Linked DNA regions of Homo sapiens. The protein of the gene in region 1 purifies or fractionates together with the protein of each later gene. This does not show direct contact. Each region holds a gene or a part of one and is shown in the gene's direction. Other genes may lie near its edges. The genes, in order: XAB2, ERF, EFTUD2, NPTN, REC8, RRP1B and SF3A1.

The links.
Region 2: the proteins of XAB2 (region 1) and ERF purify together in Homo sapiens (co-immunoprecipitation; one large-scale study listed by IntAct). This does not show direct contact.
Region 3: the proteins of XAB2 (region 1) and EFTUD2 purify together in Homo sapiens (affinity purification with mass spectrometry; 2 studies listed by BioGRID and IntAct, with this or other methods). This does not show direct contact.
Region 4: the proteins of XAB2 (region 1) and NPTN purify together in Homo sapiens (co-immunoprecipitation; one large-scale study listed by IntAct). This does not show direct contact.
Region 5: the proteins of XAB2 (region 1) and REC8 purify together in Homo sapiens (affinity purification with mass spectrometry; one large-scale study listed by BioGRID and IntAct). This does not show direct contact.
Region 6: the proteins of XAB2 (region 1) and RRP1B purify together in Homo sapiens (co-immunoprecipitation; one large-scale study listed by IntAct). This does not show direct contact.
Region 7: the proteins of XAB2 (region 1) and SF3A1 fractionate together in Homo sapiens (co-fractionation; 3 studies listed by BioGRID and IntAct, with this or other methods). This does not show direct contact.

What each region holds. Positions count from the first base shown.
Region 1 is NC_000019.10:7,623,046-7,626,545, reverse strand, and holds part of XAB2 (pre-mRNA-splicing factor SYF1), read left to right. Parts: intron 1-275; coding exon 276-410; intron 411-501; coding exon 502-666; intron 667-2,100; coding exon 2,101-2,245; intron 2,246-2,663; coding exon 2,664-2,815; intron 2,816-3,256; coding exon 3,257-3,376; intron 3,377-3,500. UniProt on the Homo sapiens protein: Involved in pre-mRNA splicing as component of the spliceosome. Involved in transcription-coupled repair (TCR), transcription and pre-mRNA splicing.
Region 2 is NC_000019.10:42,249,599-42,252,128, reverse strand, and holds part of ERF (ETS domain-containing transcription factor ERF), read left to right. Parts: intron 1-688; exon of another isoform or gene 689-740; intron 741-964; exon of another isoform or gene 965-1,183; intron 1,184-1,563; coding exon 1,564-1,798; intron 1,799-2,186; coding exon 2,187-2,302; intron 2,303-2,390; coding exon 2,391-2,530. UniProt on the Homo sapiens protein: Potent transcriptional repressor that binds to the H1 element of the Ets2 promoter. May regulate other genes involved in cellular proliferation.
Region 3 is NC_000017.11:44,849,448-44,851,946, reverse strand, and holds the end of EFTUD2 (116 kDa U5 small nuclear ribonucleoprotein component), read left to right. Parts: intron 1-129; coding exon 130-237; intron 238-577; coding exon 578-673; 3' UTR 674-1,550; coding exon of another isoform or gene 1,551-1,615; 3' UTR 1,616-1,999; downstream 2,000-2,499. Other genes in the region: HIGD1B (HIG1 domain family member 1B), read right to left, coding at 1,551-1,615. UniProt on the Homo sapiens protein: Required for pre-mRNA splicing as component of the spliceosome, including pre-catalytic, catalytic and post-catalytic spliceosomal complexes. Component of the U5 snRNP and the U4/U6-U5 tri-snRNP complex, a building block of the spliceosome.
Region 4 is NC_000015.10:73,630,590-73,634,714, reverse strand, and holds the start of NPTN (neuroplastin isoform b precursor), read left to right. Parts: upstream 1-1,325; 5' UTR 1,326-1,499; coding exon 1,500-1,590; intron 1,591-4,125. UniProt on the Homo sapiens protein: Probable homophilic and heterophilic cell adhesion molecule involved in long term potentiation at hippocampal excitatory synapses through activation of p38MAPK. May also regulate neurite outgrowth by activating the FGFR1 signaling pathway.
Region 5 is NC_000014.9:24,177,917-24,180,754, forward strand, and holds the end of REC8 (meiotic recombination protein REC8 homolog), read left to right. Parts: coding exon of another isoform or gene 1-24; exon of another isoform or gene 25-174; coding exon 175-306; intron 307-689; coding exon 690-756; intron 757-860; coding exon 861-1,000; intron 1,001-1,168; coding exon 1,169-1,217; intron 1,218-1,480; coding exon 1,481-1,547; intron 1,548-1,678; coding exon 1,679-1,810; intron 1,811-1,883; coding exon 1,884-1,990; coding exon of another isoform or gene 1,991-2,093; coding exon 2,094-2,179; downstream 2,180-2,838. Other genes in the region: IPO4 (importin-4), read right to left, coding at 2,526-2,656, 2,773-2,838. UniProt on the Homo sapiens protein: Required during meiosis for separation of sister chromatids and homologous chromosomes.
Region 6 is NC_000021.9:43,687,060-43,690,559, forward strand, and holds part of RRP1B (ribosomal RNA processing protein 1 homolog B), read left to right. Parts: intron 1-456; coding exon 457-1,181; intron 1,182-3,228; coding exon 3,229-3,381; intron 3,382-3,500. UniProt on the Homo sapiens protein: Positively regulates DNA damage-induced apoptosis by acting as a transcriptional coactivator of proapoptotic target genes of the transcriptional activator E2F1.
Region 7 is NC_000022.11:30,339,895-30,343,394, reverse strand, and holds part of SF3A1 (splicing factor 3A subunit 1), read left to right. Parts: intron 1-515; coding exon 516-590; intron 591-1,044; coding exon 1,045-1,195; intron 1,196-1,509; coding exon 1,510-1,703; intron 1,704-2,582; coding exon 2,583-2,700; intron 2,701-3,013; coding exon 3,014-3,199; intron 3,200-3,500. UniProt on the Homo sapiens protein: Component of the 17S U2 SnRNP complex of the spliceosome, a large ribonucleoprotein complex that removes introns from transcribed pre-mRNAs.

The sequences.
Region 1 (3,500 bases):
AACCCAAAAAGTCCACAGCTGGTCTAGTCAGGACTGAGGCTGGACCAGTGGAGCCAAGGCAGGACCCACAGGGGGTTGAGCCTAACCCAGTGGGGCCAAGGCTAGACCAGTAGGAACCGGGCTGGACCAGTGGGGCTGAGGCTGGTTTGACAGGGCTTGCTTTTGCCCAAGACACTCATAAATGGGTGGGGGGGGACGCCCCGAAGCCACTGAATCGGGAGGTGGGCGTAGCCCTGCCACCCCACTGACTGCCTGAGGGGTGGCTCGGTCCCCAGCTGAGTCCTGAGAGTGCAGAGGAGTACATTGAGTACCTCAAGTCAAGTGACCGGCTGGATGAGGCCGCCCAGCGCCTGGCCACCGTGGTGAACGACGAGCGTTTCGTGTCTAAGGCCGGCAAGTCCAACTACCAGGTGGGCCTGCCGGGAGCCGGCAACTGGGTGGGAGGGCCACCCCCTCCATGACTGAGCCTGAGACTCTCCCCCACTGCCCCATGCCCTGCAGCTGTGGCACGAGCTGTGCGACCTCATCTCCCAGAATCCGGACAAGGTACAGTCCCTCAATGTGGACGCCATCATCCGCGGGGGCCTCACCCGCTTCACCGACCAGCTGGGCAAGCTCTGGTGTTCTCTCGCCGACTACTACATCCGCAGCGGCCATTTCGAGAAGGTGCATGCTGGCACACGGGGCTCTGGGTTCGGGGCGGGGTCTCCCTCCGACACTCGGGGACACATGTTGACACATGCACAGGCAGAAAACATGCCATTTATGGCTGGGTGTGGTGGCTCACACCTGTCATCCCAGCACTTTGGGAGGCCGAGGCGGTAGGATCACTTGAGGTCAGCAGTTCAAGACCAGCCTGGCCAACATGGTGAAACCCCATCACTACTAAAAATACAAAAATTAGTCAGACATGGTGGTGCGCGCCTGTAATCCCAGCTACTCGGGAGGCTGAGGCAGGAGAATCGCTTGAACTTGGGAGGTGGAGGTTGCCGTGAGCTGCGATCGCGCCACGGAAGTCCAGCCTGGGTGGCAGAGCGAGACTCCATCTCAAAAAAAAAAAAAAAAAAAAAAAGTGCCATTTTTGACAGACATGCATATCCCTGCACACGATTACTATCCTGCTGAGGGTGGGGGAGCACTCCTGCCCGCAGGCACGTCAGCCTTGGAGTCAGCCACATTTGCGTTCAGGGTTCACCCTCTGGCTCTGCGGCCTTGGCCCCACTAAGGTGGGGTGTCTTCATTTGTAAAATCAGGGTGACAGTTACTGCCTGTCACCAATCAGCTCAGTGACGCAGGCACAGCACTGAGGAGGTACGTGGTGTGAGGGCCACTCCCTCAGGGGTTAGCTGACTGTGGCTCTTGGCAGGCAGTGGAGTGGCAAGCTCAGGGGATGGCCTGGGGGCAGGTGGGTGCAGAGGGGGCCAGAGCCGAGAGCGGGGAGGCTCAGGAACCCAGGGAAGATAGGTTGGGAGCCTCGAAAGCCAAACGGGCTGGCCATGCTCCTGGCTGGGGGAGCCGCCAGTGGGGTGTGGGCGGTATGCGCTTCGCAGCGCCCCTTCCAGGGGCACGTGTAGGCCAAGGCTGTCGGAGGCAGCAGGGCAAGACCCGTCAGGGCTGGGTAGAGAGAGGGGACCTGAGCTGGGGTGGGCGAGCCAGGTGGAGGACAGGCGGGCTGGGGAAGAGGGTCAGGCAAGCGAGAGGGACGCTTTGGAGCAAATTCTGAGGCCTCGGAGGATGAGCTGAGGCGAGGGTCCCTGCAGGGTGGACCCATAGGCGCTGGGGGGTTTTTGGCCACCTATTGGGTGCCAAGTGCTTCACACATGTGTCTCAGTCGAGCCCTGAGGTCACTGTGTGCAAAGGGCAGTCACCCAGTTTACTGAGGAGGTCCTGAAGCTCCCAAGACCACCCTGGCAGTGCAGGGCAGGGCGGGGGTGAGAAGGCTCCACGGAGGCTCTGTCCTGGGGTCACTACCCAGAGGTGCTGGATGCGTCACTACCCAGAAGGCCCCCAGGGGTTCCACATTGAGGCTGGTGCTAAGAGTGCTGCTGCCTGTCCCCTGCGCCACTTTCCTCTCACCTCCCCTTCCCTGGGTCCCCACAGGCTCGGGACGTGTACGAGGAGGCCATCCGGACAGTGATGACCGTGCGGGACTTCACACAGGTGTTTGACAGCTACGCCCAGTTCGAGGAGAGCATGATCGCTGCAAAGATGGAGACCGCCTCGGAGCTGGGGCGCGAGGAGGAGGGTGAGCCTCTGGGGGCCCCGGCTGGTGGGGAGAGAGCTGAGTGGACATTAGCGGTAGGGGCGGGACACATCTCAGGTGAGGCAGCCCTGGGAGGCTCAGCTGGGGGCCAGCAGGGAAGGAGGCTGAGTGGATGCAGGGGGTGTGGGGGTCTTGAAGGAGCCAGGAATGGGGACACTTCTCAGGCCTGGGCCAGAGCCTGGCAGGGCAGGAGGGCTAGGGGAACAGTGGGGGTAGGAGGGGGTATCCACAGTACCTGGGGCTGGGGGTGGGGCTCAGGTGGACACCCGAGCTGAGTGTCTAGGGCCCAGAGCACTTGGCTGGGGGCTGGAGCGGAGTGAGGGTGGGGAGTGGAGGCGGTGGCATCCGGGGACCTGCATCCTGGGTCTCCGCCCCTGACAAACATGTTCGCGGCTCCCAGATGATGTGGACCTGGAGCTGCGCCTGGCCCGCTTCGAGCAGCTCATCAGCCGGCGGCCCCTGCTCCTCAACAGCGTCTTGCTGCGCCAAAACCCACACCACGTGCACGAGTGGCACAAGCGTGTCGCCCTGCACCAGGGCCGCCCCCGGGAGGTACATGAAGCCTGCCCCAGTCCTACCCCTGAGGGCCAGTTTCCTGCAGAACTGGGGAGCCACCCACCTTCACCCATAATGTCACCTTCTAGGGGCCTGACTTTGCTTAGTAGGTCCAATTCCACCCCTGTTCTTGGGGTTCTCCTCCTGCCCGAGCCCCGCCCCTCAGAGCCACAGTCCCTCCTGGCCCCACCCCTTGGAGGGCCACAGCTCCCTCGTGGCCCCGCCCCTTGGAGGGTCACAGCTCTCTCCTGGCCCCGCCCCTTAGGGCCACAGCTCTCTCTTGGTCCTGACCATTGTCAAGGGCCATAGTTCGTTTCTGGCCTCTCCCGACAGGGGCCACAGCACCCTCCAGGCCCCACCCCTCAGAGCCACAGCTCTGCCCCGACCGTCATCTGCAGGGTCCTGAGTCCTATATGACCTCCTCCCTCCTGTCCCCAGATCATCAACACCTACACAGAGGCTGTGCAGACGGTGGACCCCTTCAAGGCCACAGGCAAGCCCCACACTCTGTGGGTGGCGTTTGCCAAGTTTTATGAGGACAACGGACAGCTGGACGATGTGAGCACCCTGTTGCGTGTGCCTGTGTGTTCATGCATGTGTGTGTGCTTGTATATGTGTGCATGTATGTGTGTGTACATATTTGTGCATGGATGTGTGCACGTGTGTGTGCATGTGCATTTGG
Region 2 (2,530 bases), about 35 Mb from region 1:
ACCTTGTGATCTGGATTCTCTAGAAGGGTGAGGATAATGGGTTGAACACCTAGATTCCCAAGAGAGCGATGGTGCTCTGGGGTCTCTGGAAGGGGTTGTCAAAGGCTGTCACTTTTAAATGGAACAGGGGCTGTTGGTGCTGGTCTGTGAACAGCTGGAGGTCATATCCCTGGCACCCTGAGGGGCTGGTGGAAGGCTGGGATATATCTGAATGGGGCAGGGACTCCGGGGGCTATGTGGTACTGCAGCCCAGTCTGGGCAGGAGTTGGGGGCCTACAGTGAGCTCTGGATTTGGAGGGGGTGGTCCCTGTGGGAGCAGGAACTACTGATTCCCTGGATTCCCAAGGGGAAGGATCCCTTGTTGGATTCCAGACTTGGGTGGAGTCTTTGAGGGTGGATGTGTTGCCTGGAGGCCTTGTTGGTACCTGTTTGAGCTGGGGCCAAGGGAGGCGGATTGACCCCTGCAGCCTGACTGGATTTGGGAGCCGCCCATCTTTAGCTGGCCACCTTGGCCTTCTCTCTCTAGTGGCACCAGGGACCCTGCTCTGCCTCCCCACTCCTTCCCTTCCTCCCCTTTCCCTCCTCCCACCCCTCCATTACCGGCTGCCTGGTGCTGAATTATTGATGGCCCCTGTTGTTGGGAAATGACAACAACCGCAGTCCCCCCACCCCCCACCCCCCACCCCAGGCTGCCCACCCCCTCCAGAGACCAGCCAGCCCACCGCCAACCTCTACCCAAGGTTAATGCTGGGGGTGGGCAGGCAGGTGGGCAGGGAAGGAGCTGAAGATGAGAAGGCAGAAGTGGGAAGAGGGTGACAGCTCCAGGGTGCCTGCTCAAGCTCCAGGCCTGGGCTGGGCCCTCCAGCCAGGTGGGGCCTGGATGCCTGGGTCTGGGGAGGGCAGTGTAGCTCAGAGGGTCCAGGGCTTGGGGGGCCTCTCAGACAGTCTGGGTTTCACTCTCCAGGGAAGACAGAAGCCTCTGTGTGTGCAAGCGCTGACCTCATCGGCAACCGAGTCACCCCACCCCTCCTGGTCCTTTTAAGAAAAAAAAAAAAAATCTTCCTCTCAGGTCTTGGGGTTGGGAGTAGGGGCTCTGTTGGGTCTTCGGAGGAGACAGTGCATGTTTCTAAGGAGGACATCCGAGGAGCTGGGGTGGTGCAACTGGCTCTGAATGGGAGTGGGGGTAAGCTGGGGGGCTGTACCCCAACCCGGCTGGCCACGTGTGCCCCTTCCTGCCCCTCCCCCACTGGCAGCCCTGCCCGCCAGCCTGGCTTGGTGCCTGGCCCCCTGGCACTGGCCCCGGGACCCACCGCCGACGGTTTCCTGTTTCTCCCGGTGTCGCTGGAGCGGGCTCCAGCTTCCCCTCCCCCCCAGCTCCTGTCTAGCCCCTCACATGCAGACAGACAGACACGCACTGTCTTCTCTTAAATCAGATCTTGACTTGGCTGAGGTGAGACAGATTTCCCCATGTTGAAGGCAGGGCAGAGGTGGACCCTGGGATGGGACCCAGAGCCCTGGACTTGGCAGCCTGACCCCAGGCCACTCCCTGCCTCCCGTCCCCAGGGTTTGCCTTCCCGGATTGGGCCTACAAGCCAGAGTCGTCCCCTGGCTCAAGGCAGATCCAGCTGTGGCACTTTATCCTGGAGCTGCTGCGGAAGGAGGAGTACCAGGGCGTCATTGCCTGGCAGGGGGACTACGGGGAATTCGTCATCAAAGACCCTGATGAGGTGGCCCGGCTGTGGGGCGTTCGCAAGTGCAAGCCCCAGATGAATTACGACAAGCTGAGCCGGGCCCTGCGGTGAGGACGGGCTGGGGACCCCTGAGCACATGTGGAGTGCCCCCCCGGGGTTGCACAGCCCCTTGCCTGTGGGAACAAGCATTGGGTCTGACCCCTGGCTTTGCCAAATCCTAGCTGTGTGACCTTGGGCCACTCCCAGCCCTTCCCTGAGCCCCTTGGTAACACAGACGTATCCTGAGGAGAGATTACAGTCACCAGTGGATCCTCTAGTCCTGCCTTAGATGTGAGGAGAGAGCTGGTACCCACCCTCTGGGCACTTGATTTGTCTTTTGTGGCCTACGTTCCTCAGTTGGCCTTTGGGAACCACACCTAAGTGCGTGTTAAGGTGTGGAGTCTAGACCTGGGTCCCACGTACCTGACCTTCCCAATGGCATTTCTGTACCCACAGCTATTACTATAACAAGCGCATTCTGCACAAGACCAAGGGGAAACGGTTCACCTACAAGTTCAATTTCAACAAACTGGTGCTGGTCAATTACCCATTCATTGATGTGGGGTTGGCTGGTGAGTACCAGGGATGGTTGGTGTGGAGAGGGTCTACATGCCCCTTCAGGCTAGGCCAGGGGCCTTGACACTGTCTCCCTTCTGCCAGGGGGTGCAGTGCCCCAGAGTGCCCCGCCAGTGCCGTCGGGTGGTAGCCACTTCCGCTTCCCTCCCTCAACGCCCTCCGAGGTGCTGTCCCCCACCGAGGACCCCCGCTCACCACCAGCCTGCTCTTCATCTTCATCTTCC
Region 3 (2,499 bases), on another chromosome or scaffold:
AAACTCCATCTCAAAAAAATAATAATAAGTAATAAATTTAGGAATAAAATAAATAAGAAGAGTCCTGCTTCTGGGCCTGAATCTTCTGGGAATTCTGCCTGGGCCATCTGAAATTCCTTTGCCTTTTAGATTGTGCCTGGTGATCCCCTGGACAAGAGCATTGTCATCCGCCCCTTGGAGCCACAGCCAGCTCCTCACCTGGCCCGGGAATTCATGATCAAAACCCGCCGTAGGAAGGTATGTCTCCCTTGGGCCTGTTGCCATCCCTCAACCCCCCAGGACTCTCAGAAGCAGGATCTCTCTCTCTTTCTTTTGGCCCCTTTTCCTAAGGGACACTTTTCCAATGTAGAGATATGATCTGTATACTCCTTAGGCAACCAAACCTGGGCCCCAGTCTCGTTGGGAAAGGAGAGCCTTATCCTCCCATGTGATAGTACCCTAAAGGCAGGGCTCCTGAAACACCACCACCTACATTCCAGCCACCACTAGCCTCCCCACTGAACACAGGTCTTGGATAGTCTCCTTGCTTAGTCTGCGACCACCTCGGGCTTTCTTATATTTGCCCCATTCCCTGCAGGGCCTCAGTGAAGATGTGAGCATCAGCAAATTCTTCGATGATCCTATGTTGCTGGAACTTGCCAAACAGGATGTTGTGCTCAATTACCCCATGTGAGTGCGTGGACTCCTGGGAGCTCCTGCTCCCTACAGTGGGCTGCAACTCCTGTACTTGAAGCTGAGACCTCATATGACGTGGCCTTCGTGTTGTCAGAGAGTGTCTGGAAGCTGCTGTTGCCATCTTGAACAACTCACCAACCTCCAACCCAGAGCCCCAGTGAGAGAGGAGCATTTGGCCTCCTGCTTCCTTCTGTGGCCTCTGCCGGGCTCCATTCCCAAGGAAAAGAGAGGAGCTTGGGCTCACAGAAAGAGAAGGGGATGAAACCCCAAGGGGCCCTATCTTTGGGATTTACATGGAATTTTATTTTCTACAAGTTTGACCTTAGCCATGGTTTGCAAGTGAACAGAACATTCTGACCTCTGTCTTGCTCTGCTCCTTTCATCCTCGTCTCCCCTGCCCCGTCTGGTGCTTACATTCTGAATATATGTCATCTCCCAAGAGGCTTCACTGCCTCTGCTTCCAGCTGCAGCCTCCTTCCTGCCTGGGTCCCCAGGGAAGCCGCCTGCCTTTTAATTCAGTGTTCCCATGAGCGCCAAGGCCCCATTATTGCCCCCTTGCTCCCACTCCATGCTGCTTCTGGGTGGAACCTAAGATGGCTTGGGAGTTGTTGGGTTCCTGCGATCAGAAGTCTACCCCACCACCTCCTCAGGAAACTGCTGCCTCCCCTAAGAATCTTCCTTGCCCTGGAGTAGGGGGCCAGAGCACTTTGATTTCCAGCCATTTACTCCAAGTCCTCTCCCCAGCTACCACCAGTCCCTTACTCTGTTCTCCCCCAGTGAAAAAGAGTCTGTTGATTTTCCTCAAAACTGCTTTATTAGGAATGTACCAGGGATTGAGTTAGGGGAGTTGGACAGCCCCGGCTCCTATAGGAGTCCTACTTCTCTCCAGCATCCTGTGCCATCCTCTTGACGTAATCGCTGTACATTGTGTACACAGCACCTGTGTGAGAGAAAAGAAATAATGCCCCTTGGCATCAAACCCTTCACCCGTCCTCTGGCTCTCAGGCGTCCTAGGGGTTCACCTCTAGCTGCTCCCTTGAGAGTCCAGCTTCCCGCTCATCTTTCTGCCCCAGGTCCCAACAGCTGCTTCAAGCATCTGACCACACAACCTGGGGAAACCACTTATCTGACAGTTCACGAAACACTTTCACATGTATTGTGTATCTGAGAAACCTCACAGCAGCCTGCAAGGTAGGCAGGCCAGGGGTGGTTATTGTCATGTTACACATCAGGAAACTGAGGCTCAGTGAGAAAGATTTGTCCACTGTCACACAGTTAGCAAGTGGCTGTCTGCTTTTTAATCTCAAGAGGAAGAGAAATTCAACATCTGTTCTGTTGCATGATTTTTCTCACCCCTAGGGCAAACTGTCATGAGACACTGTCCCCACAGGCCTGGGACAGGAGCCTAAACAGGGAAGATGGCTCAGTATAGGGGCTTCACCAAGCATGTGATGTGGAGCCCAGAACAGGAGAACTTAATTCACAGTCCTTTTTTTTTTTTTTTTTTTTTTTTGAGACAGAGTCTCACTCTGTCACCCGGGCTGGAGTGCAGTGGCGGATCTCAGCCCACTGTAGCCTCCGCCTCCCAGGTTCAAGCAATTCTCCTGCCGAAGCCTCCAGAGTAGCTGGGACTAAAGGCACCTGCCGCCACGCCCAGCTAATTTTTGTATTTTTAGTAGATATGGGGTTTCACCATGTTGGCCAGGATGGTCTCTCTCTCCAGACCTCATGATCTGCCCGCCTTGGCCTCCCAAAGTGTTGAGATTACAGGCGTGAACCACCGCGCCCAGCCAAGCACAGTCCTTTTAATTGTTGGGACTTAAA
Region 4 (4,125 bases), on another chromosome or scaffold:
TCCAGATGAAGGTACATGCCAATCTTTTTGTCACTCACACACCTGAGGTTTTGAAGGACATAGTTTTCACTTCAATCAACAACATGCCATAGTGGTCCTGGCCTTTGCTAGAAATTTTGGTCTGGAACCACCAGCTGTTCAGTTCCTGTTGAAAGTTCCAGACCACTTTAGCTTGATAGAGATTGCGAGGGTCTCCTTCTTCCAGGTCCTCCAAACCCTCTCTTTAAATCAAGTCAGGCCACCAGGACTGTTTACTTGGCCCCTCAGAGTTTCCACAGACACTCCCAGGACGTCTGCTGTGAGTCAGGGATGAGCTAAGCCATAGAAATTCCTTTGCCAACCACAAGCCCTGAGGGTAGTACAAAAAATACCCCTAAAAAGAGCATTTCCCAAACTTCTATGCAAACAGTAGTAACCACACTGCCAATCACCCTCCAGAGTGCTTTGCTAGATCCTTTCCTATGGGGCCATTTGACCCTTCCTCACTCCTCTGCTAGCCTAGGCAGTGCACTCCATGAGGACGGGGACTACCTTTTCATGTGGGTTTCACTATGTGCCTGGCACACAGCACGTTCTCAATAAATGTTTTCCGCATTAAGACGCTTCTTAGGAGTCTTCATGTAAGTTCATACACGACTTCCTTGTAGAATTGTGTCAATGAACATGCAATTAGGCTAGCTGAACTTCAGGCCCTGAGAGTCTATGAAGCTAAAATAAGGCCCAGATGTGGGGTGGGAGGGGGAGTAGGCAGAGGCGGCAAAGGAGGACATTTCAGGCAAAGGGAGCAGATGTCCAGGCAGGAAAGCACAAGGTAACGGGGGCACAGGGGGCGCACCACTTTTCCTGGAAGGAAAAAACAGCAGATGAGAGAAGGAGGTTGGAGCCAGTTACCAGTAGAGGTCTATGTTCAAAGTCCAGAAGGAAGAAACAGCAGGACGGGGACAAAGAGAGGAAGGAGGAAAGGAGGCACGGTGTATGAAACTCTGTAGCCAAGAGCGCTAACAAATGAAAGGCAGGATGGGTGGAGGAAATGTACTGTGTTCCAAAGCTTCCTCTTATTTATGGGTGCTCCCGGGCCACAGAGGAGTAAACTGAAGGACTTCCCAGCTCCCCACTGCCCAGAGAGCTAGCGGAGTCCCGCCTCGCCCCGTCACATGGCCAGAGGCGCCCTCGGCACGTGACCTACCTCGCGCTAGGCCAATCAGCCTCTGCAGGGGCGGGGCCACCGAGTCCGCGGGGCGGGAGTCTCCGTCGGAGCCGCCTCTTCTCGCGATCCTTGCGGCGGTCGCTCCTCAGCCGCCCACGACCCGGAGCGAAGGTCTCGCGAGGCCTGGGCGCTGCGGCGGCAGGAGGAGGACGGGGAAGGACGGAGCCGAGCCGCGGCTGCCTCCCTCGCTCACTCCCTCGCGCACTCGCCCGCCCCCTCCCTCCCTCCCCTCCCTTCCCCGGCCCCGGCTCTGGCCCCGGCCCATTCGCTGTTGGGTCTTCTGCTAGGGAGGATGTCGGGTTCGTCGCTGCCCAGCGCCCTGGCCCTCTCGCTGTTGCTGGTCTCTGGCTCCCTCCTCCCAGGGCCAGGCGCCGCTCAGAACGGTAAGCGGGGCGCCGGGGGCGGGCCGGGCGGGGGTTGAGGGGCGCCGGGGCCGGAGGGGGCCCGGCTCTGGCCTGAGGAGACGCTGGAGCTCGGGGAAGGGGGCCGAGTGGGCGTCTGAGGGGCTGCGGGTCCGAGAGGAGGTACCGGCTGCGGGTTTGAGGAGGCGCGGGTGTGAGGACCGGAGGCTCCTATCCGAGCGGCGGGGGCGTCCGGGGTGAGCCCGAGGTGTTGCCCACTCGGAGGCTCCACGTCGTGGGGCTCGTCGTGCCGGGTCGGCGAGGGGACACGGAGGAAGCCGACGTGGGGAGCTGGAGTAGCGGGGGCGGATGAGGAGGGGGCGCAGCTCTTAGGGAGGGTGGCACAAGACCGGCGTTTGTGTTCCGGGCGACGGGGATGGTGGTGTCCGTCAGGCCCCCCGGGAGCTGGGGTCGTCCAGGATTCTACTGAGGCCCCGTAGGACTGGTGACATCCTTAAAAATAAGGGGGAAATTGGGGGGAAGAGAGTCCTGAGGAACACTAATGGTGAGCTGAGTACTAGAGACCAAAGGAGGGGGTAAAGAATCAGGGAACCTTGGATCTAGGGATAGAGGGAAGGTGGGTGGGAAGATGAGGGAGTGGGTTGACTGCAGTAGGGGACCTGGAGAGAGAAGCAGCAGTGTCTCCAAATGAGCTGGGGGAAGAGGGCTGGGTTTGCTAAAGAGGGTGGAGTGCTGGGCATTCTAGGGTAGTGGTTGGGAGAGCAAAAAGGAGTTTCTAAATAAGGAGAGGAAAATGAGCAGAGGATGGAGGGAAAGGGTTGGAACTGAGGTGGGGGAATATTTATTAGAGAAGTAAGGAGGCCTGGGTATAGAGATGGGGGTGGGGGAAGACGAAAAATAAGGGAAGGGAGTAAAATGCAGGAAGTCGGGGGTGTAATGTTGGTTTGCAGTGTGGAGGATAAATTAGGGAAGGGAGGAGTTGGGATGTGGCAAATGCTGTATGATATTGGTCGGGCCTTTGGGAAAACAGGGACACATAGCTGCAACTAATTGCAGTGGTGGGATTGAGGGCAGTGACTGGCGACAGGGAGATGGGGAAGTGGATTTTTGAGATTTAAAAGTTTCAAGACAGAAGAGACGTTATTTCCGAGGAACATGAAAGTGGCCCCTGGGAGGTGGTACAGTAGAAAGCAGAGAATTACTGGGTTTTGAATTGAAGCTCCTTTGAGAAGATGGAGAAGTGGTGGGGAATCATGGGCATAGGGACCTAAACAGAGCAGATTCTGATTGAAGACATGTGTTAGCATTCAGCTGCTGAATTGATCTTTCACAAGTGAGTCTAGGATTGTGAACCTGTTTCTGCCCTTGTGGAAACAGCCATTAAGAGGTTAAAGAATATTTTTTCTGTGAAGGAATTTATGAGAAGTCAGTACTGGAGAGTGAACTATAAATTATTTTTGCTAATCTTTCATTGTTTATTGTTAGGCCAGAACAATTTATGATTACTCTTATTAGAGAGGCTGCAATTTAAATTTTAAAAAATCAGTGATAGAGCCAGTGGAGTTTTTTGAGAAACTGGGTTTAAAATGCTGAATGTTAGAGTTTGTTTCATTATTCCTAAAACGAATAAAGGATTGACAATATCCATCAGTTAAATATGTGTTCGTAGTACCAAATTTTATGTGTGCTTCATGGCCTTGGATATCACTGCAGGGGTCAGGAAGGAAACATTTTTTCTGTCTCTAGCATTGAATATGCTAAGTGTATTGGGTATTTTTCCTGTTTTCCTCTAAGCATGAGTCCACTGTGGAAGGCAGGGTAGAGTTAGTCTTATTTGTCTTATCAGTTTTTCGACTGTGTCAACATGACTTAAAGAAGCCTAATGCTAATTTTAGCTATTCAGTTTATGGTAATAGCATAGTTTCATTTTGCACAATAGGTGAGAGATTCTTGATCTTAACATGTTTAATCTCTGCTGGCTTAGCTTTTTTCCAATGATTTATAATACGGTAAAATTGTAGTTTCTTAGCAACTAAAGCAAGGTTTCTGGATAGGCCTATAAAGACTCATCTGTCTGCTCAGTGATATGTGTTCTAAATACAGCATAGAACGGCCTTTCCCTTGAAATGAGCTTGAATTCAGTCACATGACATGACCGATGAAATGAAGCTGAGCTGCTGGTTGACCCAAATGAATGTAAATTTAATTCAAGGAAGAGATGGCTATTTTTGAGTTTGAGTTCCTATAGTTATGGATGCCATTTTATAGCTTTCTATATAACATGTCTTATTATAATATTCAAGCTTTCAGCTGGTAATAAATAGCCCTGCAGTGATCTGACTTCATGTCATGGAGTTTGTGTTTTCTTACAGTGCTTTCAAAAAGGGATACCTTGCTTGTGCATGATGTTGAAATGTTAGAAATGTTAGATTTTCTATTTAAATGACTGGAGAAAAAAACTCACAAGTATCTCTGAATTGGGAATGTAGTAGTTTAGATTGAATATAGATGTTTTTCAAAAGGCATTTGTTTCATTATTCCTAAAATGAAGAATTT
Region 5 (2,838 bases), on another chromosome or scaffold:
CCCAGATGGGTACCCTTATGCAAGGTATGAGCTGCTCAAGTGCATGGAGACCCCGCACAAGCCCTCTCCAGGTTCCTCTAGGGGCGGGTGTGGGGTCCTGTTAGCAGTCCACCAGAATGACAGGAAAAGGAGTAATGGGCAGCCTTGCCCCTACCTGCCCTCCCCACTCAACAGAGGAGGCCCCCAGTCCCCCCACCTCCTCGCCGCCGCCGTCGTCGCCGGTTACTGTTCTGGGACAAGGAGACTCAGATCTCCCCGGAGAAATTCCAGGAACAACTGCAAACCAGAGCCCACTGCTGGGAATGTGTGAGTGCAGCCCAGGCTTTGCCGGGGAAGGGAGGGAGGCAGGGATGACCAGGGGCACATGCAGGCTGAGCCTTCCAAACTCCTCAGGTGGGTGGGGGGAGGATTGGGAACTTGATGAAAAATCTCCTCCATTCTCCAGAAAATGCAGGCGATGTGGGTTTGCACATATACAACTCTTCATGCTCCTTTAGTGACCCACCTGTCATACCCATGGGCACCAGGTTAAAAAGTCCTTCTTTTAGCAATGAGCAGGGCAGGCAGGGTCATGAGCGCAAAAGCTGGGGAAGTCCAGAAGCCCCAGAACAGTGCATTGCAAAGAGGCAAAGGGGCCCTGAGGAGTGGCTGCTTTATAATGGGGCTTCTGACCTTCCCCCACTACACAGCCTATGGTGCAGCCGCCCGAGAGGACCATCAGAGGCCCTGCGGAGTTGTTCAGAACCCCAACTCTCTGTAAGAATGGTGGGGGTTGGGCACGAAGTATCCTCAAAACCAATTCCTCATTCCTGGTGCTCCTCACGCCTCAAACCCCGTGCCTACTACCCTCTTGTCCACAGCTGGCTGGCTACCCCCTGAACTACTGGGTCTCTGGACCCATTGTGCCCAGCCACCCCCAAAAGCCCTCAGGCGAGAGCTGCCTGAGGAGGCAGCCGCTGAGGAGGAAAGGAGAAAGATTGAAGTTCCAAGTGAGATTGAGGTAACTGCACCACCTGTTTACTGCATCGCCCCAGTGCCAGGGTCTGCCTGACCAGCTGGCTGCCCTCTCCTGCTATGAGAGCCAACAGCACAGGCTCACTGGCCTTGTGCCTTCTGAGGCCCAAGTCCCAGATGCTTGGGGTCTTAGTTCTACTTCTCCCATCCCCAGGTCCCGAGGGAGGCCCTGGAGCCCAGTGTTCCCCTTATGGTGTCTTTAGGTAAGCACCTAGAGAAGAGGCGCAGTGGGACCACACCCTAACCACTGTCCCAGGAAACTAGTATCCCAACTGCTGAAGCTGTTTTATGAGTGAAGGCGTGTGTGTGTGACATAAGGAAGCACGGACTGGTCCTCCTCAGCTCTCCCACCTATGTGCTTTTAACAAGTCACCGCACGGCTCTGCCATCTACTTACACCAGGTGGCCACAAGGCCCTAACTGCCACCCAAGCAGACACCCACTAGCGCCTTTCCTCCCCCAACAGAGATCTCCCTAGAGGCAGCTGAAGAGGAGAAGTCCCGCATCAGCCTCATCCCACCAGAAGAACGGTGGTAAGCGGCCAGGCTCCGTGGGAGCCAGGGCCCACAGCCCTTGGCCAGGTGGTGGAAACAGCTGCTGGGATGGGTATGCCCCTTGTCACTGTCACAGCTGCCACCTTCCCTACTCTCTCATGTCCTCCTAGGGCCTGGCCTGAGGTGGAGGCGCCAGAAGCTCCTGCATTGCCCGTGGTGCCTGAACTCCCTGAGGTGCCCATGGAGATGCCTTTGGTGCTGCCCCCAGAGCTCGAGCTGCTCTCACTGGAAGCAGTGCACAGGTACCAGGGAGGTGGCACCTTGATGGGGTGGACCCGGGCTGAAGCCTCTGCTAATGGTTCTTGATCCCTATAGGGCAGTGGCACTGGAGCTGCAGGCTAACAGGGAGCCCGACTTCAGCAGCCTGGTGTCACCTCTCAGCCCCCGCAGGATGGCTGCCCGGGTCTTCTACCTGCTCCTGGGTGAGTGTATGCATGTGTGTGTGTGTATGTGGGGCAGGGACACAGAGACCAGAGGCCCGTACAGGGACTCCCCCGACCTGCCCTCTCCTCGCCTCTTGACCAGTGCTCTCAGCGCAACAGATTCTTCACGTGAAACAAGAAAAGCCATATGGTCGCCTCCTGATCCAGCCGGGGCCCAGATTCCACTGAGGTTAGAGTCCATTTACAAAGCTGCCAGGAAACCGGCCACTTCTAGTAAACCACGTCGTGCCTCACTGGGTCCTGCTTACCTCATTTCTGAATGTGCATTTCCAGCCTTCTTGCTCTCAGAGCTATTGTTCAAGCAGAAAACAAGCTGCTTTTATTACAGTATGATGTCATGACTCATTTGTAACAGATCCAGCCTCAGGGACAGCCCTGTAAGGCAGCAAGTGGGGCTGGCTCCAAATGGGTATGAGTCTCAGAATCTTTGGTAAGGCAGAACTGAACTGGGCTGAGAGGTGGTCTTAAGGCCTGGGCAGGCTCTATTCTCTCTGGACTGGCTGCAGCCTGCAGTCTAGGAGAGGCCCAGTACAGCCTGGAGCTCCTGAGCCTTGTCAACAGGCAGTGAGCCCAGAGCTGCTTGAAAGCTGTCGGTGTGCTGTTTGGCCAGGAACGTCAGGAGCAGCAACAGTGCGGCCTTGGTGTCTGGGTGGAGAGGGAGGGAGAAAGGTCGGGGCTCCTAAAGCCTCGCTGCCCCAGGCTCTCTGAGCCCTGCCACTCCCAGCCTCCCGCAAGCCCCTGCCTATGACTCCTACCCTCACCTGGTGGGATCTTGTTGTCAGCCAGAATGAGGCTGCAGATACGCAGAAGCTCGGGAGCCACATCTA
Region 6 (3,500 bases), on another chromosome or scaffold:
TTAATGGCTGAGAGGTAAAGGCGGTTTTCCAAGTGTTGTGCTGTTTTTGGTGGAGCCGCGTCCCCACCTCACCCCGCTCACGTCCGCCTGCTCTCCAGGGCACCTCTGCAGGGAAGCAGGAGCTGCAGGGAGCACTGGGGGGCGGCTGTTTGATGACCACTCGAGATCTATGGTTTTTACCCTTGAGCCCTAAAATTAGTGGAAATGGGACTATTTCAGTTCCATATGTGTTTATAAACGGACAGAAGGAAGGCTTCCAGTCACAGTTGGGGATGGAGGAAGTGGGACCAGACGACAAAGGTAGTGGGCGCACCAAGTACCTCAAGGGAGACAGGAACTTTCCTCGTGGTAGAATGTCAGGAAATTGCGTCCGCCAGTCATACTGTCTGAGAATCGCCAGCAGGACTCTGGCCCAGCTGGCACTGGGTGCTTGTTGATGGGTTTCTGTCTTTTTAGGAAGCAGAGTCTTTTGTGTAGAGGAAGAGGACAGTGAAAGCAGTCTTCAAAAGAGAAGAAGGAAGAAGAAGAAGAAGCACCACCTGCAGCCTGAAAATCCAGGCCCAGGGGGTGCAGCCCCATCCCTGGAACAGAACCGGGGCAGGGAGCCCGAGGCCTCTGGGCTGAAAGCCCTGAAGGCACGTGTGGCCGAGCCAGGTGCAGAGGCCACGTCCAGCACTGGGGAGGAGAGTGGCTCCGAGCATCCTCCAGCCGTCCCCATGCACAATAAAAGGAAACGGCCACGGAAGAAGAGCCCGAGGGCCCACAGGGAAATGTTGGAATCAGCAGTGTTGCCCCCAGAGGACATGTCTCAGAGTGGCCCGAGTGGCAGTCATCCTCAGGGACCTAGAGGGTCCCCGACAGGTGGAGCCCAACTCCTAAAAAGGAAGCGGAAACTTGGAGTTGTGCCCGTCAATGGCAGTGGCCTGTCCACGCCGGCCTGGCCTCCATTGCAGCAGGAAGGCCCTCCCACAGGCCCCGCAGAGGGGGCGAACAGCCACACCACGCTGCCCCAGCGCAGGAGGCTGCAGAAAAAGAAGGCAGGGCCCGGCAGCCTGGAGCTCTGTGGCCTGCCCAGCCAGAAAACAGCAAGTTTGAAAAAGAGGAAGAAAATGAGAGTGATGTCAAACTTGGTGGAGCACAACGGGGTGCTGGAGTCCGAAGCTGGGCAACCCCAGGCTCTGGTAAGGTGGGAGCACCCACAGGCCAGCTCGCCACAGAGGCACTCACTCGCGTCCATGGGGCTCCACTGCCTCCTGAGAGGAAGGGTGGGGGCTGGCGGCCAGGCCTCTGGACTCAGCAGCAGTTAGAATAGGGTGTGTTCATAACAGCCTTCACTAAGGAGGAAATCACAGGTGACCAGTACTTCGGTCCTCCTCATCGGCCACCTTCACTCCCTTAGGCCACATGCTTGGGTTCGGGAGGGCCCACTCCAAGCTGGGAAAGTTATCCCTTGGGCCAGGCACTCCTGCCCCAGGCGTGTTCAGGCCAGTCTAGGCCTCTGTCAAAGGCAGGTCTGGTTTTCTTCATCAGCGCATGGCCAGTCCAGGCCCCTTTGGCAAAAGAGGAAGCCCAAAATTCTCTTGCTTCACTCACCTTCTTTTCTATATTCTTTTCTTTTCTTAGCTTCCCCCCTACCCCCCAGCTCAAGAAACTTCACTAGCAGGACCACTTATCTTCTTAATGGAAAGACTTTCCTTCCACTTTGATTTCTAGAGCCAGATATAAATGAGGAACCAAGCTGTTGATCTGGTCTTGGGTCTGGCTGTGTCACCCAGGCTGGAGTGCGGTGGCACAATCTCGGCTCACTGCAACCTCCACCTCCCAGGTTCAAGCGATTCTTCTGCCTCTGCCTCCCAAGTAGCTGGAATTACAGATACACATCACCATGCCCAGCTAATTTTTGTTATTTTTGTAGAGACAGAGTTTTGCCTTGTTGCCCAGGCTGGGCTCAAGCAGTCCACCTGCCTCGGCCTCCCAAAGTGCGGGATTACAGGCGAGAGCCCCCGCGCCTGGCCCTGATCCGCTTTTCACACCACCTCTGGGCGCCCTGGGCTTCCAGGCCAGGGCCGGCAAACGTAGTGTCACTGCAACAGAGCCACATCCACTTGTATGTGCAGGTCTGTGGCCACTTTCATGCTGCAGCGGCAGAGGGGAGTGGTAGAGACAGAGACCTGCGGTCTGTAAAGCAGAAAATAACTCTGCCCTTCACAGAGTTTGCGCACCTTGGTCACCTCTTGGTTTGCACACACCGCTTTGCGGAGATTATGACATCTCTTGTTTAAGTGGACATGTGTGGACCTGGTGAAGCGCTGGTTTGGGGCTAAGAGTGTCTGCAAGTGGCTAGTGAGTGAGTTTATGGTCAGGAAAGCCTTACCCAGGGGCAGCAGTGCACTGAGCTGGACGGCAGGAGGCCCATTTCTAGCCTCGAGTCTCTCCTACCTCACAGTGCCGCCATCTCCTCCCTGGACTGCAGCCTGCCCCTCGTACCCTCAGCGCTGCTCCCTCACTAAGAGGGCCAGAGACATTGCCTTTCTTGCTGTCGTCTCAGGCCCCTGGCAGCCTATTGTAAAGAGGATGGGGTGTTGCTCAATAAGTCCCAGGGTCAAGGGAAGCTTTCCCCTGCCATCTGTCATGGCACAGGGAAGGCGCACAGGAGAAGCTCCTCGGGCTTCCCTGCCCTCCAGGCGGCACACTTGAACCTGCCGGAGCCACCCGTGTGTCGGCAGCGGCACTGGGCTGCCCACACCTCTGAGAGCCAAGTACGAGACCCGGTCTCTCTCTGGGTGGCTGTCAGTTGCTGCACACGCAATGAGTGTCCTGGGCCTGCCTGTGAGGGACCCACAGCCCCACATGGGCATCACTGTCCTCCACACCAGACTGCCAGCGCAGTGACGATTCAGCTACAAATGGGAGAGTCGATCTTATTAACAGATCGGCTTTGAAAGGCCAAAATCCCCATTTTGAAGATGAAGATAAAAGTGGGTCCTTACTCTGACGAGGCGTTTTCATCGCCCCTCTTGGCATGGTGCCATGATAGCGGTCGTGTTGTGCGTGAAGCCTGAGCTCTGCCGAATGGAAGGGCTGTCTGCAAGTGCGGTGCGGAAGACCGCGGGCCGTCGGGTGGGCTGGATCTGCCTGGGGCTCTGCCTTCCCCTCCTGTGTGTGTGGGCAGCACAGGAGGCTCTGTCGTCTGACCCCTCCTCCGCTTCTCACCCCTCGCTCACGTAGGGAAGCAGTGGGACTTGCAGTTCCCTGAAGAAGCAGAAGCTGAGGGCAGAGAGCGACTTTGTGAAGTTTGACACCCCCTTCTTACCAAAGCCCCTGTTCTTCAGAAGAGCCAAGAGCAGCACTGCCACCCACCCTCCAGGCCCTGCCGTCCAGGTACGCACCCTCCCCAGAGTGGCACAGCACATTTCACCACAAGGGCACAGATGGGCTTGAGCTGACAGTGCTTCCCATGCCGGGCCTGGAGCCCCACTGTGGCCCTCTGAGCCTGTCCA
Region 7 (3,500 bases), on another chromosome or scaffold:
CCTGTCTTCATGGAGTTTCTAGTCTAGTGAGGAGGAGTCAAGTGCATTGTCAGTGTCTGTTACATGGTGCTAAATACTACAGAGAGAAAGCAGGGAGCAGAAATAGAGGGAGGTGGGGCAAGTACGCTGCGGTTCTGAATAGGATAGTCAGGGGGGACCTGCGTAGTGTTTTTGAAAGGATGAGAGCAGGTCAGTGTCATGAAAGCAGCCGTCTCATACTGACCGTGTTCTGGGTAATCGGCTAGTGCTTTGCATGCTTTCCTGCTAATCCTCGAAGCCACCTTTTTAAGTTCATGGTGCCAACTTTGAGTGGTGGTGCCATTATTTTGGAGAAGGAAATCAAGTTACTGAGGTTAAGTAACTTGCCCTAAGTCCCACAGCCAAGTGGAGCTGGGATTGGGACACAGAATCCCATGCTTCCTCATCTCCTGTGCTTTATCACAGGCCCAGGAAGGCTGCCTCTTTGTACTGCGTTGTAAAGCACTGACAGTTGCTTTAACTCTTCTGTATTTCAGATCTTGATTCCACCCAAAGGTTTATTTTCAAAGCTCAAGAAAGAGGCTGAAAACCCCCGAGAAGTTTTGGATCAGGTAAACTGAATAGCATTTCTTGCAACCAGTTACTGGTGGTTGGTTCTGTTTTATGTCTGAAAACAGTCTCTGAGGCAGGACCTTGTTATGTTCCAGTCATGGGAATGGTGGGAGAAAAGGCTTTGTTGGCTACAAAGGCCAAAGAAACCTGGAGTCCGGATGCTTCCCAACATACCACAACTTTCTGCTTTGCTCTCAGCCTCAATATATCTCCCTCTTTTCCACTCTAGCTAGAAGACAGAAGGCCAGCTCCCAAGCAGATCAGAGGGTGGAATTTTCATTCTGTCCCAACTCTGCACCTGGGTGGAACCAGGTGCAAATGCCATAGTTTGGAACCATACTTCCATTCTGTTCCGAAGGAGGCGCTGACTTTGATGAAAGCCCTGGAGGTGGTAGCCTCATCAGGAGCAGACCCTGCTTCAGCGTAGCACCAAGCTGTTTCCCATCTCTGCAGGTGTGTTACCGAGTGGAATGGGCCAAATTCCAGGAACGTGAGAGGAAGAAGGAAGAAGAGGAGAAGGAGAAGGAGCGGGTGGCCTATGCTCAGATCGACTGGCATGATTTTGTGGTGGTGGAAACAGTGGACTTCCAACCCAATGAGCAAGGTAGGTCTGTGAGGAGTGACTCCAGATGGGGAGCCAGGAACTCAGACTTCCCGGGAAACCTGGTGCAGGTGTTCCCAGAGAGCAGTAGAATCTCTCAGAGGGCTTTATCAGTGCTGTCTCCTCCCTGCTCCCAAAAGACTTCAGTTCTACCACTTTGCCCAACTTAGATTCAATACGTACTTGCCAGACCCTAGATGGGCCTCTGGAGATAGCTGGAGAGAAAACAGACATGGCCCCAGCCCTTGGGGAGCTCAGACAGGGCAAATAGGTGGGTCTTTGATAAGGAATACCTTTGCCTCTGGCTCACCCTCTAGGGAACTTCCCTCCCCCCACCACGCCAGAGGAGCTGGGGGCCCGAATCCTCATTCAGGAGCGCTATGAAAAGTTTGGGGAGAGTGAGGAAGTTGAGATGGAGGTCGAGTCTGATGAGGAGGATGACAAACAGGAGAAGGCGGAGGAGCCTCCTTCCCAGCTGGACCAGGACACCCAAGTACAAGATATGGATGAGGTAAGCTGCTGGGCAGGCCTGCAGGATGACCTTTTCCCCTGAAGCCCCAGGAGGTCGAAGTGCTCTCCACCAGTCAGATCCAGCTCCCCTGTGAGCCTTGAAAGGAGGCGTGGGTCCTGAACAAGGCCATACAGCTGCCCAAGTCCAGGCAGCACAGAGCCTCTTTCCAGCTCCGGCAACAAAGATTCATTCATAGGCAAGGATCTAAAAGCTGTGCTGACCTGTTCTGTGGCCGCCTCCCTGGCCCGGACAGCCTGCTCTCACTGCCTCGTGCCAGCCCTCAGGGAACTCACTGCATTACCCTGTTCTGTTTTGAGCTCTCAGCTGGGCTCCAAGCTCCCAGAGCTTTTCTAAATGTAGCCCACGCTTCCTTTCAGGCATCCCTACCCCCTTCAAGCCAGGCCCTCTAAGCAGGCATGGAGTCTCCAGAACCAGACTGTTCTCCCCCACTCGGAAATAATTTGTGCACAGCCTGAGAAGAAAGGGCCCCTGTCTGTGGGAAATGACTTTTTCTCTCCCTCCCAGCATTGCTGTGTGAGCAGCTACCATTGATTGGCGACTCGCCGCCCCCACCCCTCGCCCCCTTGGCACTGTCCCCCCCCGGCATGTTAAGTGCCCTTGGCCTCTTGGGACTGCCTGGTGCCAGCTGCTGGAAATGCCTGGGAGGAGTGCTAGGACCGTGGCCTCAGCACTCCCATTCATGCTGTGAGGAAGCAGCTTGGCCTGCTGCCGGCTGGCCTCAGCTGCCCTGGGAGGCTTAGCACATGGACGCTGGCTGGCAGAGGCCAAGGCTCCTTGCCACCCAGAGACCTGCCAGGCTCAGCTACAGGGAGGTGGCCTCAGCCCCTCTCTGAGTCCTGCCATTGCTTTGCTTTTCAGGGTTCAGATGATGAAGAAGAAGGGCAGAAAGTGCCCCCACCCCCAGAGACACCCATGCCTCCACCTCTGCCCCCAACTCCAGACCAAGTCATTGTCCGCAAGGATTATGATCCCAAAGGTAGGGAGGGCCTGCTTCCCAACCCTCGGGCTGCCCAGGAAGTCCTGTGTGCCCTCATGTGTTCCTCACACCCGTCTTTCTAGGAGGGCTTGAGGTGCAGCTTATTGTAAAAGCATTGCAAGCCCGTCTGTTACAGGTTTCATGGTGGGAACAGGGCCCAGTCATCTCTGGTGCCCTAGTGCCTTTCACAGTGCCAGGTACAAGAGTGGCACTGAATAGATGCCTTGATGAATGATGCACGCATGAAATACCACCCTCTTAACTCAGGTGGCTGCCCACCAGTGTTCTTACTGAAACATCTGTTTCCTTTTAGCCTCCAAGCCCTTGCCTCCAGCCCCTGCTCCAGATGAGTATCTTGTGTCCCCCATTACTGGGGAGAAGATCCCCGCCAGCAAAATGCAGGAACACATGCGCATTGGACTTCTTGACCCTCGCTGGCTGGAGCAGCGGGATCGCTCCATCCGTGAGAAGCAGAGCGATGATGAGGTGTACGCACCAGGTGAGGTGGGGGTTCCAGGAGAGCCCATGGTAGTCTCCGAATTACAGCCATCTTCTTCTAAGCAAACATAGAAAGCAACAATTGAGGTCAACAAAAGCTTTTGAGGAGAGTTGCACTCTATGATATTGCAAGAGAACTCCCCACTTTCCAGAAGAACTCCCCATAGAAATTCCCCAAAGGCAGACACTGAAGGAGATGCCATGTGCCTGTTGACATCCCAGAGCAAGCTCTGGCTTTAGCTGGAAGGGCTTCCTGTGGCTGTTTAGAAGGAGAGCATTGATGGCTGGAGTACCATGAGCTC